Linked DNA regions of Homo sapiens: all the other regions are reported to be linked to region 1. The links are microRNA targets in miRTarBase. Many come from high-throughput screens and were not tested one by one. Region 1 holds a microRNA gene; each other region holds the end of a gene's coding sequence.
Evidence for each region. Region 1 holds the annotated microRNA hsa-miR-1298-3p (CAUCUGGGCAACUGACUGAAC, at 1,554-1,574, shown strand). A microRNA usually pairs through its seed, bases 2 to 8, with sites in the 3' UTR of a target mRNA and lowers its output. Matches are read on the target gene's strand: a 7mer-m8 pairs with bases 2 to 8, a 7mer-A1 pairs with bases 2 to 7 and ends in A, and an 8mer does both.

Region 2: miRTarBase lists ZNF251 as a target of hsa-miR-1298-3p. Seed matches in the 3' UTR shown: 7mer-m8 at 3,172-3,178.
Region 3: the mRNA of GRID1 is a reported target of hsa-miR-1298-3p. Seed matches in the 3' UTR shown: 7mer-A1 at 805-811.

What each region holds. Positions count from the first base shown.
Region 1 is chrX:114,713,751-114,717,993 of GRCh38, forward strand. It overlaps MIR1298 (microRNA 1298), which reads left to right and starts at 1,483; the gene lies at 1,483-1,594. All of the region lies in intron 2 of HTR2C (5-hydroxytryptamine receptor 2C), which reads left to right. LOC105373313 (a long non-coding RNA gene) reads right to left here. Exons shown (of 5, transcript XR_001755943.2): 5 at 3,744-3,837.
Region 2 is chr8:144,717,994-144,722,236 of GRCh38, forward strand. ZNF251 (zinc finger protein 251) reads right to left here. Exons shown (of 5, transcript NM_138367.2): 5 at 2,916-4,243. The coding sequence ends at 3,651. Among named protein-coding and RNA genes, the nearest start is that of ARHGAP39, 34 kb to the left of the region's middle.
Region 3 is chr10:85,598,497-85,602,733 of GRCh38, reverse strand. GRID1 (glutamate ionotropic receptor delta type subunit 1) reads left to right here. Exons shown (of 16, transcript NM_017551.3): 16 at 33-3,182. The coding sequence ends at 461. All of the region lies in intron 2 of GRID1-AS1 (GRID1 antisense RNA 1), which reads right to left. Among named protein-coding and RNA genes, the nearest start is that of GRID1-AS1, 23 kb to the right of the region's middle.

The DNA.
Region 1 (4,243 bases):
ATGAAATGATTATGAAATGATGGTGCTTTGGATGGTGGTTATAATAAAATGTGTGTAGTTGTAGCACCTTTCTTTTCATTCCTCACTCTCAAAACACATGCATACACACGTATACACAGACACACACATACACACACAGAGTCATGAGCAAAAGGATTTGAAGATTTGTTAGTTCGAATTTTCTGACAGGTTTTATTTTATAAATTGAGTTGTACAGGAGGTACTCTGAGAGGGTAAGTTGAAGAATTCTCCACAAATCTAATTAGAAAATTTAAAAAGTGAAAATATATTACATGTCATTTGTGGTCTGATATTTTAGCTTTAATTACACTGAGGGGAGTTATAAAATAGGCATATCAGTTTCGCTAAATATTGACACCATCTGATATAACGTTTGTAGAACTGGGACAGGAAACACTATTTTCAAAGTTGTCAAACTGAAGTACTATTTTTCTCCATAAATAAACAAAATGGTAGAAGAGTACACAAAACCATAAACAGATTCTACCTGAGAATTAAACCACTAAAGTAGAAGCCAAGCTTTAGATAGCTACAAAACTGGCCATTACTTCTTATACTTCACTTTTCTGTAAAATATTCTAGGCAGAAGATTTTTTAAAATAAAATCACCAATAAACAATTTTGTTTAAAATTTTTATGAGTCTGTGTGGTCTCCTAACTCTTTAAGAATGAGAAATGTATTTAAGGATTCATTTAAGGAAGTAGATAAAGGCATGGTACAGAATACCTACATATTAATTTGTGGGATGTGTAGACTGAGTTATGAGAATACTCAAGTTAAAAGTCACTTTCGCATTCCTTTCAAACAAAAGGCTTTGTCAGGTGAATGCTATGTTTTATATTTAATTAGCAATAACAAGTAAGATTTAATTGTAACCAAACTCAGCTATTTAGAAGTATCTTGTTTGTAAAACAGCGTAGAATAATGTCAACAATTTAGCAAGAAAACCCAATTCACAGCATTTCAGAGCAAAAAGGGATAGAGGTCCTCTATTGCAACTTCTGTGTCATGGATGAAAACAGTGAGGCTCAAAAAGTTTGAGTGACACATCAAGAAGTGGTAAGAGTCAAGACTAGAACTCATGTCTCCTACTGCCCAGCCTAATGTCCTTTATGCTAATCACACATATTTAACGGCTAGGGTGTTGAATGATACTAGAATGAATTATACATTATATAAATTATTCATTATGCAAATTAATTTTTGTTGTCTCAGTTTTCTGTATTCATGACATATTTGAATTTAACAAGATTCATCTGGTACTTCTAGCTATTTCTACATTTTATGAGTTGTATACATTTTATATCAATAAGTTATAAAACAATAGCAGAAGTCACTTCTTTTTTCCAGATGAGACAGCAAAACCAGAAACTGACCCTTCAACTTTGAAGTAGCTTTTTGTTTGTTTCTTTCCCCTTTATATAGGATGTCTTGAAGCCGAGAAGGAAGAGCTGTTGGAGAGACGAGGAGTTAAGAGTTCATTCGGCTGTCCAGATGTATCCAAGTACCCTGTGTTATTTGGCAATAAATACATCTGGGCAACTGACTGAACTTTTCACTTTTCATGACTCAGCTGGAACCCTCCACAACCAGAAGAGCCTGTTATAAAGTGAAAAGTTTGTGATCTCTTAATCTAATGAAATGGGAAGTAGGAATTGCTTGTGGGTGAAGAGACACCATTGTAAATGTAAGTGGGAATGTATTTTAGTATGCAACTAAATTGATTTTTAAGTGTCTTGACAAAAGATAAAGAGGATTTGTTTTTCTAGCTTGCAAAATTAAAATCAAATTAACAGAAAATTTTGATCTGCTCCCATCAGTGACACTTGTCGTGTACTTAACTCACCGGTATAAAATAACTATTTTATACTGTGATGGAGAGTAGCTGGCAAATGCTGGCAAATATTATTTGTATATTACAATATTTAAAAGATATCTAACCTCAAGCTATGGCTATGTACATGGATCCATCTAATGTATTTACCCCAATCACTCTTTATCTCATGATGCAATTTCATTTTATTCATAGCAATTATCACGATTTGAAATTATCCTACATCTTTGTTTAAATGTTTATTTTCTGTATCTCCAGCTAGAATGTAAGCTCCATTGGAGCAGGGGCCTGGTTTACCTTGTTTACTACTACATGCCCAGCATCTGGCATAGTGCCTGGCATGTAATAAGCAATCGATAAATATTTGAATATATGAAACTACTATTATACAGCTTTTGGTCCTGCAGATCGGTTGGAGTTGGTCTCCAACACAGATATTTAGCATATGGTTTGCTCCATTAGCTCTGCTCTTTGAAAACCTTCAGTTTGTTGTGCTATGTGCATACTAACACTGAGATAATTCCCAGATAGTTCTGCTACCACCTATGGAGAAAGCAGTTTCAAATTGCTGGGCATTCTGCCCACTAAGGCAAATTCTCTCCATGTCTGTTACTACCATCATAGAGTGATTTGCAATAGCTACTTTAAGTCTATCAATTGGGAAGTGTATGTTTTTAAAGTATTATTTTATGTAAATGGAATAGGTCTAGCTGTGAAAAACATAATTTTATATGCTGTAGATTTTGAGTTAACTGTTGTGTGAATTCGCACATAATTTAACAATAATCACGCTCATGGAACATGTCAAACACAAGCAGAGGTATTTAGTAAATACAAATGAGGAGAAAAAAATTTTTTTTTCCATTTGAATTCCAAGCATAGGAGGAACAGGTAAATCTATTTAAATAACCACTTAACATTATCTTGGAGGAGAGGGAATAAAAGTAATGAGCCTAGACTTGCATTCAAATTGAATAATCACTGGTGGAAGAGTAGTCTTTAATTTCATTGATGATAATAACTGAAAAACTTTCTATCAAAATAATAAAAATTATCTGATTTGACTATAATTAGCAAAGGTGAGTTTTTAGTATGACAAATGTATGATTTATTAGAAAATCGCTAGAGTACATTTGAAGTTGAAAGGAAAACTTCCTACAATATTCATTAGTCCTAAGGATAATTTTTGAATTAAATGAGCTCCCCCAAAATTATTGTAAATCTGTGCCACATTAATATAATCTTCCCAGGACTAATCTGAACATTTATGGCTAATTCATTTTTGATTTAGACATCTGCTAAAAGCTCACTGGGTATAATAACTAGAGGGATAATATTTGAATTATGAGTCATAATTTCTGAACACTGAAAATTGATAAAAATCAAACTTCTATATGTATTATTATTTATTCAATTTTTAAATGCTTTGTTATAAAAAGTGAGACAGAAGTGATCTAGTTGACTATATTCTACAATTTCTTTTTTTTTTGAGACAGGGTCTGTTGCCCTAGCTGGAGTAGAATGATGTGATCAGGGCTCACTGCAGCCTCGACCACCTGAGTTCAAGGGATCCTCCCACCTCAGCCTCTCAAGTAGCTAGGACCAGAGGCACACGCCACCACATCTGGCTAATTTTTTGTATTTTTTGTAGACATGGGGTTTTGCCATTTTGTCCAGGCTGGTCTTGAACTCCTGAGCTCAAGCAATCCACCCACTCCGGCCTCCCAAAGTGCTGGGATTATAGGCGTGAGCCATCGCACATGGTCTATTCTACAATTTAAAAAAATTTAGTGTGAAATTTAGTCTTTCAGTTTGATAGAAAATATGCTGCATCATTATAATGTGCTAACGGAATTTCCAGAAATCTAGTGTAAACTATACCTTTTCATGGGTGAATCTAGACTCTCCAATTTTTGTTAAAACATGAGTAGAAATGCTGGCATTTTTTTTTAAGACTCATCAATATTATCTTCAACCAGGTCTGGGAAAAAAAGAATAAAAAGTAGTGTGAGAGCAGAAAACGTGATTGAAACACGACCAATCTTTCTTCAGTGCCAAAGGGTGGAAAAGGTAATGGTAAAAATGAATTATAAATGGTTAGCTTTAGAAGTTGCAAGGCAAGCGTTTTCAATAAAGTTGCAAGCTTCTATCCTCTCCAAGCACAATTTGGGCAAAACCACAGCTCTTCCTTTATTCTTAGATAGTATCTTTTGACTTCACACCTTAAATCTCCTACCTTCCCATCAATCAGCCAATTACTTTGTACCCAGGACTTGGCCAAGGATTGTGGATGTTACATGGAAAGTACATCTATATGGCTCTTCTGCTCAAAAATTTGCCTTTAGTATTAATACAACACCTTTAAAAAGCCTTGTTCGTGCCAGCCT
Region 2 (4,243 bases), not on the chromosome of region 1:
TAGAGCCACCCACAAGCCCTCCCATGCCCCGGTGCTTCCTTCCATTCTACGTAAATGTGAGGCCTGTGGGCCTCTTAAGGGAGGCATCATTGTGGGACCTTTCCAGTAGATCAGAAGGAGAAAACAATTTTAATGTACCCAGTGTGCTCATGGACAGAGCAGAAGCAGAACACAAGGTTCACATTTACGCAAAGCACATTCTTGGCACTGTTTCCTTTCTCTGCCTCCTTCACCTCTCTTCCTTCCTTCCCAAGTACATCCTAAGCACCTGTTCTGTATCGTGTGCTGGAGATAAAAAGGTGCATAAGACAACATCTCTGACAGCAGAGAGTTCTCCGTATAATGTAGGGTAACGAGGTAGAAAGGAAAATGTAAGTTGAAATGGTGGGGATATGAATGTTGTGCTGTGGGATACAAGGGTAAAAGAGTTATTTTTTAGACGTGGGGGAGGTGTTTTTTTCCCCCATTTTAGAGCTGGAGAAAAAGAGACCCAAGAAGATTCAGTGTTTTCCCTGAGGTCAGAGTGAATCCATTTCAGAGGGAGACAGGACCCTCCAGGTGAGCCTGTGCTATCCACTCCCTCTTTTGTGTGGACCATTCCACATGGACCACACTAAGGCTGGCAATTCCCACACTTGGAAGAGGTTCTGTGATAAGAATTTTAATAATAAAGTGGGGGAGACAGAACCTGAGCGGGGGAATAAGCGCAGCAAATCACAGAATGGATGTTAAACCAAATGTAGCGGTGACCCCAAATTCCCTAAGAAAACAGTAAGGCCAGGCGCCGTGGCTCACGCCTGTAAGACCTGCACTTTGGAAGGGCAAGGTGGGTGGATCGCTTGACTCCAAGAGTTCAAGACCAGCCTGGGCAACATGGTGTGACACCATCTTTACAAAAAATTAAAAAATTATCTGGGTATGGTGGTGTGTGCCTGTAGTCCCAGCTACTTGGGAGCTGAGGTCGGAGGGTTGCTTGAGCCCAGGAAGTCAAGGCTGCAGTGACCTGTGATCGCTTCACTGCACTCCAGCCTGGGTGATAAGAGTGAGACACTGTCTCAAAAGAAAAAAAGAAAACAAAGATGGAATGAGAGATTAACTAAGGTAGGCTCCTTGAAGGGGGGAAATATTTCAGTTAGACCTGGAGGGAATGAAAGGTAGATTTGAAAAAAGATTCTTGGCCGGGCACGGTGGTTCATGCCTGTAATCCCAGCACTTTGGGAGGCCGAGGCGGGCGGATAACGAGGTCAGGAGATTGAGACCATCCTGGCTAACACAGTGAAACCCCGTCTCTACTAAAAAATACAAAAAATTAGCTGGGCGTGGTGGCGGGCGCCTGTAGTCCCAGCTACTTGGGAGGCTGAGGCAGGAGAATGGTGTGAACCCAGGAGGTGGAGCTTGCAGCGAGTAGAGATTGCGCCATTGCACTCCAGCCTGGGCGACAGAATGAGACTCCGTCTCAAAAAAAAAAAAAGAAAAGAAAAGAAAAGAAAAAAGATTCTTGCAGGTAGAGTCTCAGAATTGAAAATCAGAGGCCGGGCGTGGTGGCTCACACCTGTAATCCTAGCACTTTGGGAGGCTGAGGAGGGCGGATTATGGGGTCAGGAGTTTGAGACCACCCTGGCCAACATGGTGAAACCCCGTCTCTAAGAAAAATACAAAAATTAGCTGGGCGTGGTGGCACGCGTCTGTAGTCCCAGCTACTCGGGAGGCTGAGGCAGAAGAATCGCTTGAACCTGGGAGGCGGAGGTTGCAGTGAGTTGAGATCGTGCCACTGCACTCCAGCCTGGGTGACAACGCGAGACTTTGTTTCAGAAAAAAGGAGAAAAAAAAAAAGAATTGAAGATCAGAATTTCACAGGTGATCACACTCTGAGAAACTACTACAGTGTTATTCAAACTTCCCAATGAAACTCTTTAAATAGATGCTTACTGATCAAACCATGGTCAATAGGAGAATGCAAATTAAAACCATGGATACCACTACATCTCCACTAAAATAGCTAGAATATTAAAAAATGGACAATACTGCTGGGCACGTTGGCTTATGCCTGTAATCCCAGCGCTTTGGGAGGCTGAGGTGGGTGGATCACCTGAGGTCGGGAGTTGGAGACCAGCCTGACCAACATAGAGAAACCCCGTCTCTACTAAAAATACAAAATTAGCCGGGCGTGGTGGTGCATGCCTCTAATCCCAGCTTCTCAGGAGGCTGAGGCAGGAGAACCGTTTGAATTGAACCCGGGAGGCGGAGGTTGTGGTGAGCCGTGATCGCGCCATTGCACTCCAGCCTGGGCAACAAGAGCAAAACTCCGCCTCGGAAAAAAAAAAAAAAAAAAAAGGACAATACCAAGATCTGGTGAGGATTCAAAGCAACTAAACTCACACATCATCAGTGGGGATATACAACTGACTTTGTAAAAGTTTGGCAGTTTCTTAAAATGTTAAACATAAGCTTACCATATGACCCAGCAATCCCACTCCTATTTACCCAAGATAACTGAAAAGTTAGATTCACAAAACAGCCTGTAGTTGATACACAGTGATGGCAGCTTTAATCATAGTTGCCCATACTGAAAATGCCCAAATACCCTGCCATGGGTGAACGGATAAACAAATGGCTCCATCCATACAATGGAATGCTACTCGGTGCAAAAAAGCACTCTACACAGGCAATATGGATGACTCCAATGCATCATGTTCAGTAAAAGCAGCCACGTGCAAACAGCTGCACACTATTTCTGGAAATGGTGAGGTGATGGATAGAGGATAGAAAACAAACCAGTGGTTTCCACGGACTGGGGTTGAGGAGGGGTTAACCACAAGAGAGCACAAAGGAATTCTGGGTGGTGGTGAAGATGTTCAATGTCTGGAATGTGGTAGTGGCACAATTGTATGTTTTTGTCAAAGCCCAAAGAACTATACACTAAAAAGAGTAAATTTTATTGTTTATAAATTATGCTTCAATAAACCTGCCTTTAAAAAATTTTTTATCAGTAATTACAATTTTCAAAAGTGGAGATACTTGGTAGGCCCCTGCTTTCTTGGCCCCTAAGGTCCCTCTCTCTGTTAAACTGTAGAGCTCCTTAGAACCAAAACCAAACCACCTTTCATTTTAATGAAAATGAAATGCAAAAACTGGGGCTCCAAGCAAGGAAGAAACGTCTACCTGCAGTTCATCTGGGGGTTGGTGGGAGAGGTGGTGGAGAGAGTAAGGCTAAGCGCCCCCAGCAGGCCCAAGTTCTCTGTACCACACTTGGAGGCAGGTATATGGGACTGAAAGTGGATGTTCTCAGCCACAAGCCTGGGCCTGGATAGGAAACAAAGGATAAGACTGGAAGGATGTCAGGTAGGGTAGACCCAGAGCACCAGCTGGGCTCACTTTTCACGCCCTCCATCCATTCGTCATGAGTATCCGGATACAGCACCACACGGTTCAACTCCTGAGCACAGCAGTAACCTTTACACAGACAGCCTGATTTCCCAGAATGAATTCTCGTGTTTACTTCCAGATTTAATGACTTTGACTTTAGTAGTCATCTGAACTATTTATTTTACTTTGCCAGTAATATTTAGACCTTATATATCTTTCATTATGCCATCTTATCTTCTAATGTCAAGTGAACAGTTGCTAAACTGTCTTCTGCATTTATCACATTAAAAATGTCTTTCTTGGAAAATCTTCTTGATATGAATAAAGTATCTTTTAGAGCCATCATTTAAAGCAGGTTTCTCTCCAACACGAGTCTGCTGAGGTGGTGTGAGCTGTGAACTCTGGCTGAAGGCTTTCCCATACACACTGCAATGACATGGTTTCTGACCAGTGTGAGTTACCTGATGTTGAATAAGGGTTGACTTTCCACTGAAGGCGTTTCCACATTCTTGACATTTATAGGGCTTTTCCCCAGCATGCATTATCTGATCTTCAGTGGGTCGTGAGGTGGGACTGAAAGCTTTTCCATATTCATTACATCCAAAGGATTTCTCACCAGTGTGAACTGTCCAGCGCAGAATGAGATTTGCACCATGGTTAAAGGCTCTGCCGTGCTTCTCTCCAGTGGGAATCTGTCCATCTGCTGTGAGGCTGGAGCCATGAACAAAGGCTGGACCATGTTTTCTGCACTTACGAGTCTCTCCGCTGTGAACTTTCTGATGCTGAATGAGGGTTGACCTCCGGCTGAAGGCCTTCCCACAGTCACCACAGTCATAGGGCTTCTCTCCAGTGTGAACTCGCTGATGTAGGGTGAGCT
Region 3 (4,237 bases), not on the chromosome of region 1:
CTCCACCTGACCTTCCTATGCCTTCCCTCCAGGACAAAGAAGTGAACTTGGAGCAGGTCCACCGGCGCATGAACAGCCTCATGGATGAAGACATTGCTCACAAGCAGATTTCCCCAGCGTCGATTGAGCTCTCGGCCCTGGAGATGGGGGGCCTGGCTCCCACCCAGACCTTGGAGCCGACACGGGAGTACCAGAACACCCAGCTCTCGGTCAGCACCTTTCTGCCAGAGCAGAGCAGCCATGGCACCAGCCGGACACTCTCATCAGGGCCCAGCAGCAACCTGCCGCTGCCGCTGAGCAGCTCGGCGACCATGCCCTCCATGCAGTGCAAACACAGGTCACCCAACGGGGGGCTGTTCCGGCAGAGCCCGGTGAAGACCCCCATCCCCATGTCCTTCCAGCCCGTGCCTGGAGGCGTCCTTCCAGAGGCTCTGGACACCTCCCACGGGACCTCCATCTGACTGCGCCGCCTGCCCTCCTGCCCACCCTCCCACCCACCCGACCAGCAGAGCTTTTTAATACAAGAAAACAACAACACAAACCACACACACTCGCACACACACACATACACAGAGACTCTTTCATTTTTCTTGTACATATGTGTAAATAATGACAGAATGGAGTGGGGTAAAAGTGTATTTTGAATATTCCCAATTTTCGAAGTCAGTAAAAAAACACAAAAACTGTATGAATGACTTTGTAAATTTTGTTCTATATGAATAAAAAGGCAAATTACTTGTGATCATTCTGAAGTGCCAAAGGAGCCCCCCCATTCCTGGGCCTTTCTGAGGGCAGGAGGGGCGACCAGATAAGGAGCCCCTCTCTGCTGGGGGAGAAGGGAAGACGAGGAACCCCACATGCCACTCGCTGCCTTGTCCCACAGCTTGCTGCCCCATTTCTTTGCTCCTGGCACCTCGTCCCTTTTAGTCCCTCAGCTTGATAAAGAGTGAGTTTGGAGCCCGCATTGGGCTGGCCCACTGGGTTGCTGTGCTGTAGGGTGATCGGCTGTTCTGGGTAGCCTGGGGCTGAGGAGGTGCCCTGGACTCAGGGCTATCCTGTCCTGTCTTGGATCTTGCGGGACGAGTTAGTCACCGCTGTGTGTGTTGCAGTGTGCCTCTGCCCCATGGGCCCGAGAGAAGCTGACAATTACCCATAGTGAGGTAATTGAGGGCTTTGATACTGAGCTGTTCTCATATCATACTGTTGGCCTTGTTTTTCATTTTCTTTTCAAAATTAGAAGAATCAAAAAGTGATAGAATATTGGGGGAAGGAGGGCAGACTCCATCGTTTCCTCAGGGAGACTGGGCGGAGGTGGGGTTGGTCTGGAAGAAGGTCCATGGGGGCAGGGAGTTGCGAGGTGGGGTTAGTTGCATGGACCAGGTGAGGTGGTGGAACAAAAGGCCAGGTAGAGGAAGAATATTCCCTTGGGTTTGGACCCATGGTCCCAGGTGAGAGAAGGAAGTGAGGCCATAGATGCAGGGAGTAGAAGCTTTGTGGTGTCAGGCAAACGGACTCTGTTAGTAAGAGTTGGGGGAGGTGCCCAGGTGGGTGGACCAGTACTCCAGGTGATGGGGCATGCTGAGAAATAGAGAAAAGAGACCATGTTTATTTGGGTAGGAGGAAGCCTTGCCTTGCGCCTTAGGTGAGAAGCATAAGTGTAACTCCCATCCACCAGGGAAGTTGCTTGTAGCCCCAAAAGTAAAGGCCTATCTCTGGGTCATAAATCCTGCAGGCAGTCCAACAAACAGGGCTGGCTCCAGCACAAACTCTCCCTTCCACCTTTACGACCCTCTCCAGACCAGACCTGGAGTCCTCTTCAAGCAGCAATCCAACCCAGAGCAGGGGCCCTCCCCACTCAGGCATCTGATAACCTCTGAGATTTCCAGGCCTATCCCTGTGCAGGTACAGCTGCAGGGAAGCCCAGTTTTCTAAGCCTAGGACCACCTAACAGCGCCCCCTCCTTCAGTTGCCCTTTCTGAGGCAACTAAACTACAGAATCAGGGAAAGAACCATTAGGAGTGGAACTGGGGGAATCTGAGTTGTGTCACTTCAGTTCCTCTCCTAAAGACAAAGGTTAGTCTGATCTCCAGACCCGTCAGAATGGAATACACAGCCCACATCTGTCACTGAAGGAGGTGGAGCTCCCACAGCCAGCAGTAATCAGGGAGCTGAGAGCCTGGTTCTGTGATCATGGAGAAATACAAAGTCCTATTGATTGCTTCTTCTATAGCCTTGTAGAGTTTCTAGAGAGATGTATTTATGAGGGTGATAACTAGCCCAGGATTGATTTCTTTCCTAAAGTCCCTAGTGACATGATTGAGCAGTAAAGAACGGCCAAATCACACAGTCAGCTAAAAGCACTGTGGGGAAGAGAGTGTTTATAATTATGTTATTTATTGCTGGATGCTGAGAATGGTCTGATATTCGTGCTACCTAGGCAATCCATTGACATTTCTCCAATCAGAGCATGTGGACCTTGGAGCCAGGCATGCTCAGAGAAGCCTAGGTGGGCTACCATGACCCCGAGGAAGAGCAGGCTTTGTTTTCCATCAGCACGTTGGGGGCCCTGCCCTGAATGGTCAATTTTTCACATATATATCTCTCTATTTTTTTAATCAAACTCTGGTCTCACTGCCTTATCTCACACCAACTCTGTTTCCTCATTGCCCCCTGAGATGGCCTGTCTTCTGGGGTATAGCTTGGATGTCTTCTTGGATGGTTCTGCTTAGAATGAGTGTCAAGGAGGAAAGAGAGGGAGATGGAGGATGTGTTTGTGCGCCTGTGTGTGTGTGTTTGTGTGTGTGTGTGTGTGTGAGAGAGAGAGAGAGAGAGAGAGAGACCAGCATCTTCAAGAGAAGTATTCTGCTTATACAAAATCCTTAACACCTCATGGTGTTATTCTTCACCATGTTTATATATATATATATATATTTTTTTTTTTTTTTAGAATTTTCTACCCTTGGCATGAGGGGAAATGATTGATATTCAAGCAAGTTCTCTAGGAAAAAAAAAAACTTCCCAACTCAGATTTCTGTGTCAGCTCAGAATGTATCTTTTTTTCATGCTTTGCTCTTTGGATTTATAACTCTGTTTAGACTATTCCATACATTTTAGGTATATTTTGTGCCTTCAGACACTGCAAATAATAATCAGCATTTGGATTAAAGTTGTTTAATAATAAATCTTGTCTTTGCTCCCTATGCTCTTATTCTCTGGGGTGAAGAAATACTGTCTGCTTGTTTCTGGGCATGCTGAGATCATGAAGTAAATTCTGTGCTATCAGCAGGGACAGTCATGAGGAAAACTCCTCTCCTCAAGGGGGTCTCAGATATGCCTGGAGGTGGGGGCAGGCCCTCCTCACCCAGTGCATATCCAGAGTTCCCTGAAACCAACCAGGGGACAGTGTGAGGGACAGGCTGAGGAGCAAGTCTAATTTTTGGTTAACCTAACAGTGTTCTTTAAAATATTACGTTCTTGGAAGTGTCTTAGGAGAGAACTGGGTCATCATCATGCGTAGAGAAGTGCTCCCATGGCCTGGAGGAATGAACACCCCTTTAATTGTCAGCTGACTGTGCTGCCACTCTCATCTCTGCACTCACCCTGACCTCAGATAAGTTGCTTCCCTGTGCTTAGGTCTCAGAGCTAAGGGACTGTCATTCCTGGTGGAGCACAGCTTGGCTGGACCCCCAGCTTGGCTTCTCAAAATTTGGCCCTTACAGGATCTGTGGAGACCTTTCTCCAATGAACATCTTATGCCCTCAGTCATCCTACAGGCCTCAAGCCATCAACCTGATCTTCCACCCCCAGATGTGTGTGCTTTTCAGCCGACCTCTGAAAAAGTCCCCTGGCTTCAGTGACTTTGTGGGGGACAGCCCCGCTGTCGGCCTCAAGCTCAGTAAAGCTGATCTGAGGAGGCTGTCTGACATGATCAAAATTTCTTCTTCTAGAAACCAAAAGGAGGATGCCCAGCCCTAGTTCTTCTGCCCTGCACCAAGGACAGGCTTCTCCACGTTGGGGCCACTCCTCAGACTGGGGCTGAGGGGCGGGCAACAGACACCGCTGGATTCTGTGAGCAGATGGGTGGACAGGAGCAGCTGCAGGGAACCACAAAGGGCTGTTTTCTTAAGAAGAAGCTGCCTAGTTCCTAAATCAGAAATCCCCCGAATAGTGCCAAGGTAAAACTAATTCCATACCTAATGTTTGTCTTTTCAAGTTCTAAAGGAGAAGCAGACACATT